Linked DNA regions of Homo sapiens. Changing the gene in region 1 together with any one later gene gives a genetic interaction. Each region holds a gene or a part of one and is shown in the gene's direction. Other genes may lie near its edges. The genes, in order: MYLK and MYLK2.

Region 1 (3,813 bases):
GCCAGCCCTGGATTGATGGAGACAGAATGCCTTCTGTGGGTCCTGGGGTTGGTGTAAGCATCGAAGAAGAGCATTTGTTTGCACCTAACCTACAAATAGGAGGTCGTGCCACATCCTGAGGATGGTTAGACCTGTCCTGGCCCGGGTGCCTGACCACTTTGCAAGGGGCTTTCTCGCCTGTACTTTATCATCTCCCCATGCTGAGCCCATCATGTTCACAGCTCTGAGCTACAAATAAGCTCTAGAGCTAAATGCCAAGGCTACTGCAAAACCCAATATGTACCCCATCCCCTTAGGTCCTTTGTGACCATGTGCTTTATACCTGAATCAGTTATCTTTTGCTGCATAACGAACCACCCCAATACTTAATAACTATTAAAAATAGCTCGTTTATTTTTAAAGCAGTTTCATTATTTCTTAGGAGTCTTTGGGTCTCCTATAAAGTTCTGCTGATTTAGGCAAGGCTAATCTCAGCTGAGCTCAATGACATGTCTGTTGTGGTCAAGTGATGGGATGCTTGTGAGCTGCTGGTCCCCCTACTATTATTAGCGGTACACTCAGAATGCATCAACTGCCTTTGCATTATGCTTGAACTAGTTATTACCAGGAAGGCCACTCTGCCTCCAAAATGGGGAGAAGGTACACGCTTACCCCCTAGGTCAGTACAAAGAATGGAAACCGATGATGTGTAAAAATACCTGCTGATGATCTCGTCAGTATAGAAGGAGTAGCACTTTGAGATAATACTTACATTACTCAAGCCAGACATCCTAGAGGAGATGAGCTTGTTTGGGGATTTTGATGGAAAAGGAAGGCTGAATCTTGGCAAATGTGATAAGGCTTAGCTGTTGAGTAGGCCGAGCAAGAAAGGGTGGGGTGGGGGCAGAGCCAAGCAAAGGGCTGTGGGAAGTTTGCCAGGCCAGAGAGGAGGCGTGCACCAGGAGGTCGGCAGGCAGACTGTCTGGGGCCAGCTGGGGACAGTCATAAAATTTAGACTGTCCCAGCAGGAAGGGGCTTCAGAAGTTATCCAGCCTCATCGTCATTTAATAACGGGGGACACTGAGGTCTCAGGGTCGTGGACTTGCTTGTGGCCATCCAAAGGCAAGTAACAGAGCCCAAGTTCAAGCCCTCATCTTTTGACTTAAATCAGATGCTCTTCCATTCCTTATGGCTCTGCTTGGGGAGTTTCTCCCAAGTGCACAGGGAACTGGAAGGACCTGGGAAACCACACTGGAGCCTCCAGCCTGCAGCCTTTGCCTCTTTTTCTTCCCCAAAGTCCAGCCTCTTCATTCCTTTCGGAGGCCACTGCCCTGGCCTTGGCTTTTTCCCCACCTGAGAAGAAGCAAGTCAGTGGAGAGTTTCCTGAGGGTACGTGGCAGGCCTGCCAGAGACCTCACTCCTCCAGCAACCTAGACGTAGAGCAGGGTGCCTTTCGAGGGGAATGACTGGATGGCTGGGAGGAAGCCGGGGGTCCGGTGTGCAGGGGGTAGAGGGGTGGGCAGATCCTGCCTGTCCCTGCTAGGATTGTGAGGCAGGTATGGGTGGGTAGTTTCTGCCTCTCTTCCCTTCCTAGCTCTTGTCTACTGTACCAAAAGGGGAAATGACAAAAAGTCAGCTCAAAATTCCAGCTGGAATACTTGAAACACTTGACACTTGCCAGGAAATTAGTTCTTTTTTATTTATTTTTTATTTTTTGACAGAATCTCACTCTGTCGCCCAGGCTGGAGTGCAGTGGCACGATCTTGGCTCACTGCAAGCTCCACCTCCCGGGTTCACGCCATTCTCCTGCCTCAGCCTCCTGAGTAGCTGGGACTACAGGTGCCTACCACCACGCCCGGCTAATTTTTTTTTTTTTTTTTTTTTTTGTATTTTTAGTAGAGACGGGGTTTCACTGTGTTAGCCAGGATGGTCTCAATCTCCTGACCTCATGATTCGCCCACCTCAGCCTCCCAAAGTGCTGGGATTACAGGTGTGAGCCACCATGCCCGGCCGAAATTAGTTCTTTAAAGTAATTTTTCCATATAGAACCCATCCAAGAGGTAGATGATTCAGGGTGGGACAGGATCCAAGGCTTTGTAACCAGAGTGGAACTCTTATTCAGAGCTTAGTAAGCCAAGGCAAAAGGACTCTTTGTGAAAGGTTCAGTTTATAGGATGATAGCCCCATATGCTCTGTGGCAGCTCCTGGGATGGGGCCTCATCTTCAGCCCCGGCCCTGATTTTGTAACTGGTTATGTGCAGATGTCAAAGATGGCCCCAAGACCCTGTTCCAGCAGCTTAGGTGATCTGACATGTGGGTCCCAGGCAGGAGGCCACTATGAACTTTATAGGCTGCAAATGAACCCATGGTTTGCTTTAAAGGCCCAGCAGAGATTTAAGGGTATGGCTGTAGGAATAGTTACTGCTATTGCCCTGCCACCAGGTGATCCACTTAATGCGTCAGCCTTTGTATCCCAAGTCCTCCACCTTTCTCTGACCCCTTAGACTGCTGGGGGCCACAGGGTAAGGCCTGGGGCTGGATTGGACAGGAGCCCTTGAGAGGCTTGTCTGAGTCTGTGCTCCCCACCTTGAGCACAGGTCATGGAAAGTGACAGAAGCCCTTACCTGCTTCCCCCATGGGGAGAATCGGCTTACTCCAGCTTGCGGCACAGGGCTGTCCACCACCAAAGCCTCAGAGGAGTCCAGCTGGGGTAAAGCCGCCATCTGGGCAGTGTCTGCTCCTGATGTTTGCATCTGGGCTGTGTTCTACTGGTGACAGGAGGAAACTCTGCTGAGGAGATGCTGAAAGGGCTGCCAGGCAAACACAGCCCTTGGGCATCTCATCTTCCTGCTCCATGTCAACCCAGGCACCACAAGGCTGTGCTTAAAGGTAGGAAAAGAGTGGCCTGACACTGGCCAGCAGCCTGGCAGAAGCAGGGTGACCTCACACAGTTATTCTACAAGCTCACCCAAAGTCCATAAGCCTTTTTAAGTGTTGAGAACTCGGGGCACACTGAGGACCTCTTCGTTCTCCCAGGGCCTGGCACCCATGAGGTTTCTAATTGCTGTTTGTTGAGCAAAGGAACAACCTGAACTCAAAATTCTCCAGACTTGAGACTCCCTGCACCTTGAATCTGTGCCCTCTGACAGTCTGAGCATTGAGGAGGGTGGCTGGGAGGGGACAGGCTATGGGATACATGGCCAGGGAGGAGAGAGGAGTGAAAGAGCTAAGGCAGTCAGGAAGGCACCTGCACCAGCACAGCCTGGGACAGCACGAGGGCACTGGAGAGAAGGACAAAGGAGAGGAGCCCAGCAGGCGGGAGGAGGGCTGGAGGACAGCAACGATTGGCTTCTCCTTGCTTCAAATGGGTGCCAGCACCCAAGGGTGAGCAGCGCCCCAGAGCCCCTGAGAATCCTGGGCCAGGCCATGGGCTACCAGTGTCTGTCCACTGGGAGGGAGGCCAGGCAGAGTGAGGTGGAGACCCACACACGCCAGCAGAATACACAAGAACGCATGCTCAGATGCCTGTCCAGGTGGATGTAACTCATATGTGCACATATTCCCAAACACAGACCTCCAGGTGCAGGTGCCTGCCAGCTAGACCAGTATATGTGTACATCATGTGTATGGTTGATAACTACATATGTGCATGAACACACACATGTCCCAGACCAGATTTGTACTGATAAGCACAGTAGGGTAGAGTGCAAAGGTCATAGGGTCACAGGTCCCAACCCCTCCCTCCACTAGCAAGCTCTGTGTGTTTAGGCAAATTACTTAACCTTGACCTTCAGTATTATATTTTTTAATAGAGGTAAGGTCTTGCTATGTTGC
Region 2 (3,228 bases), on another chromosome or scaffold:
GTCCCTGCCTTGGCAGGTTCTGTTGACCAGGCTGGGCCCTGTCCGGAAGACAGGGTTGACTTTTCTGTTTTTGCCCTGGGCTGGCTCCTGTCCTAGAGTGGAGACCTCTACCCGGCCTTCCACCCAGCCCCACCCATCTGGGGCTCTGGCTTCCCTCCTTCATTTTTCAAATATTTCTTGAGCATCTACTACTTCTAGGCATTGGGATATAGGAGTGGACAAAAGAGACAAAGATCTCAGTCTTTGTGGAGTTACTTTTGGTGAGAGATGGGGCATTTTCTATCTTTTTTTCTTTCTTTCAATACAGTCTTGCTCTGTCACCCAGGCTGGGGTACAATGGCGTGATCTCGGCCCACTGCAACCTCTGCCTCCCAGGTTCAAGCAATTCTCCTGCCTCAGCCTTCCAAGTAGCTGGGATTACAGGCACCCACCATCACACCTGGCTAATTTTTGTATTTTTAGTGGAGACGGGGTTTCACCATGTTGGCCAGGCTGGTCTTGAACTCCTGACCTCGTGATCCACCTGCCTCCGCCTCCCAAAGTGCTGGGATTACAGGCGTGAGCCACTGTGCCTGGCTGAGGTGGGGCATTTTCTAGAGCCCTGTGGAAATAGGCAGGGTTAAAGAAGACTTTAGAAAAAAAATAAGGGCCTTCTGCCGGGGAGAGGTTGCACTTTTATTTTTATTTTTTTTAGAGACAGGGTCTCACTCTGCCTCCCCAGCTGGAGTGCAGTGGCGCTATCATGGCTCACTGTAGTCTTGACCTTCTGGGCTCAAGTGATCCTCTCCTTTGGCCTCCTGAATAGCTGGGACCACAGACATATGCCACCACATCCAGTTAATATTTTAAAAATATTTTTGTGGAGATGAGGTCTCGCCATGTTGCTCAGGCAAGCAATCCTCCCGCCTTGGCCTCTCGAAGTGTTGGGATTACAGGTGTGAGCCACTGTGCCCAGCCTGCACTTCTAAATAGGGGGGGTCAGGAAGGGCTCACTGAGAAGCATGTGAACAAAGACCTGAAGGTGGGGAGGGGTGAGCCGTGCCAATACTGGGAGAAGAGTATTCCGGGCAGAGGGAGTAGCCAGTGCAAAGGCCCTGAGGCAGAGGTGTGGTTGGAGAGTTTGAGGAACAGGTAGGAGGCCAGTATGGATGGAGTGGAGTGAGCAAGGAGGTAAGGAATGAAGTTAGAGAGGAAGAGGGGGACAGGAGTTGGAGGGACTCATCGGCCATGGCAAGGGGTTTATCTTTTACTTGGAGCAAAACTGGAGCCATGGGAGTGTTTGGAGCAGAGCGGTCCTTGGTTCAGGTCTGGCTGACCTATCCGTTGAGTGAGGGGACTCCTGGACAATACAGTGTCATGGCGCCTCCCGTGGCCATTTTGGGCACTGCACCTTCTCTAGCCTGTGACCCTCCTGGACTGAAGGGGACTTACAGGCTGCTCAGACACCCTGCAGCTGCCCCCCTGCCCTGGTGTTGACTGGGACTCCCTCTCTTCTGCCCTCTAGAAAAACTTCATTGCTGTCAGCGCTGCCAACCGCTTCAAGAAGATCAGCAGCTCGGGGGCACTGATGGCTCTGGGGGTCTGAGCCCTGGGCGCAGCTGAAGCCTGGACGCAGCCACACAGTGGCCGGGGCTGAAGCCACACAGCCCAGAAGGCCAGAAAAGGCAGCCAGATCCCCAGGGCAGCCTCGTTAGGACAAGGCTGTGCCAGGCTGGGAGGCTCGGGGCTCCCCACGCCCCCATGCAGTGACCGCTTCCCCGATGTGAGCCGCCTCGGAGTGTGGCCTGGATCCATCCTGCTAGCACCTCCCCAGACAGGGCTCCAGCCTGTCGGCCACACCCCAGACTCCAGGCCCCCGTTGAAGCCGCTCCCGGTTCCCTCCCCAGCTCCTCGTCTTTGAACTGCCGCCGCCGTGGTGACCCCTGCTTTGCCCCACTGGGAGAGTCCTTAGCCTGGGCCTCCTCCTAGCTGGAGTGCCATGGCTGGGGGGTCTCAGCATGTAGGGCTTCTGTGGTTGTGGATGGGAGGCTCCTGGTGGGGCAGAAAGGCTGCAACGCTGATTCCTAAGGCCCAGCTGCCAGGGAAGACAGAGCAGGCTTTGTGAGAGAGGACCTCCATGCCCCCGCCACCTCCCCACTCCAGCAGATAAGGCCGAGCCCACACCATCTGGCCCAGGCTGGCCCCCACCCACCTTCCTTGCGACCACCAACACACAGGAACTCTGTGTGAGAGAGAGGGCGCCCAGCCCAGGCCTGGTGGAGGGGGAGGGGAGAAGCCAAGGGACACAGGAGACCACCCCCGAGCTTGCCTCAGGGCCAAGCCGGCCCAACCCAACCACTCGGGGCCCCCATCTTGGGGGTCACCCATGGCCTCAGATGATGGGGTCAGCAGGCCCAGGAGAATTAGGAAGGCCATGGGGCAGCCTCCAGTCTGCTCTCAGCTTGTGCCTTGTAAATAAATGTACAGGTTGGATGTGGCCTCCTTCCCTCTGTGTGTGCCTGCACTGGTGTGAGGTCGCTGATGACCACAGTTCACTGAGCACCTACTGTGTACCGGACACTTTAGCAATATCCGTCAGCTCACAGTTTGGTGGTTCATGCAGGCTCAGGTGCCAGTCTGCCCAGCACATGATGTGGGCAGGTGGCTTCTGCACGTTGTGCCTCAGTATCCTCACCTGTGAGAGGGAGGTCGCAGCAACAGCCTACACCGGGTGTGTGATTACTGCGTGCCCAGCTTTACTTAAAGCGCCTGTGCTGTGTTAACTCATTTACTCCTCACAGCAAAGTTACGAGGCAGGATTGATTGGTTGATTGATTGATTTATGATGGAGTCTCACTCTGTCGTCCAGGCTGGAGTACAGTGGTGTGATCTATGCTCACTGCACGCAACCTCCGCCTCCCGGCTTCAGGTGATTCTCATGAGGCAGGTATTATTATTCCTGTTTTACAGAGGGAGAAACTGAGCCAGAGAGAGTGGGCAGCGCTAGGATCTACCTCATAGGGTGGGGCCATGGCTGCAGCATCAGTCAGACTGAGGTAAGGCACTTAGGGCTGTGCTCGGCCCAGGGAACGATAATGTTCTTATCCTTACTCCACATATGAAGAAACTGAGGCTCAGAGGAGAGAAGGAACTTGAATGCCACTCAACAAGTCAGGGACTGGGGCTTGAAAGGAGCTTTTCTGTCTCCCAGAGCAAGGATGTGCCCATGCGTTCCCTCTGCCTCTCACC

Evidence for each region.
Region 2: changes in MYLK (region 1) and MYLK2 together harm fitness more than expected from each alone (negative genetic interaction), as found in Homo sapiens cells (one large-scale study listed by BioGRID).

What each region holds. Positions count from the first base shown.
Region 1 is NC_000003.12:123,702,800-123,706,612, reverse strand, and holds part of MYLK (myosin light chain kinase, smooth muscle), read left to right. Parts: intron 1-2,603; exon of another isoform or gene 2,604-2,747; intron 2,748-3,813. UniProt on the Homo sapiens protein: Calcium/calmodulin-dependent myosin light chain kinase implicated in smooth muscle contraction via phosphorylation of myosin light chains (MLC). Also regulates actin-myosin interaction through a non-kinase activity.
Region 2 is NC_000020.11:31,832,213-31,835,440, forward strand, and holds the end of MYLK2 (myosin light chain kinase 2, skeletal/cardiac muscle), read left to right. Parts: intron 1-1,504; coding exon 1,505-1,585; 3' UTR 1,586-2,472; downstream 2,473-3,228. UniProt on the Homo sapiens protein: Implicated in the level of global muscle contraction and cardiac function. Phosphorylates a specific serine in the N-terminus of a myosin light chain.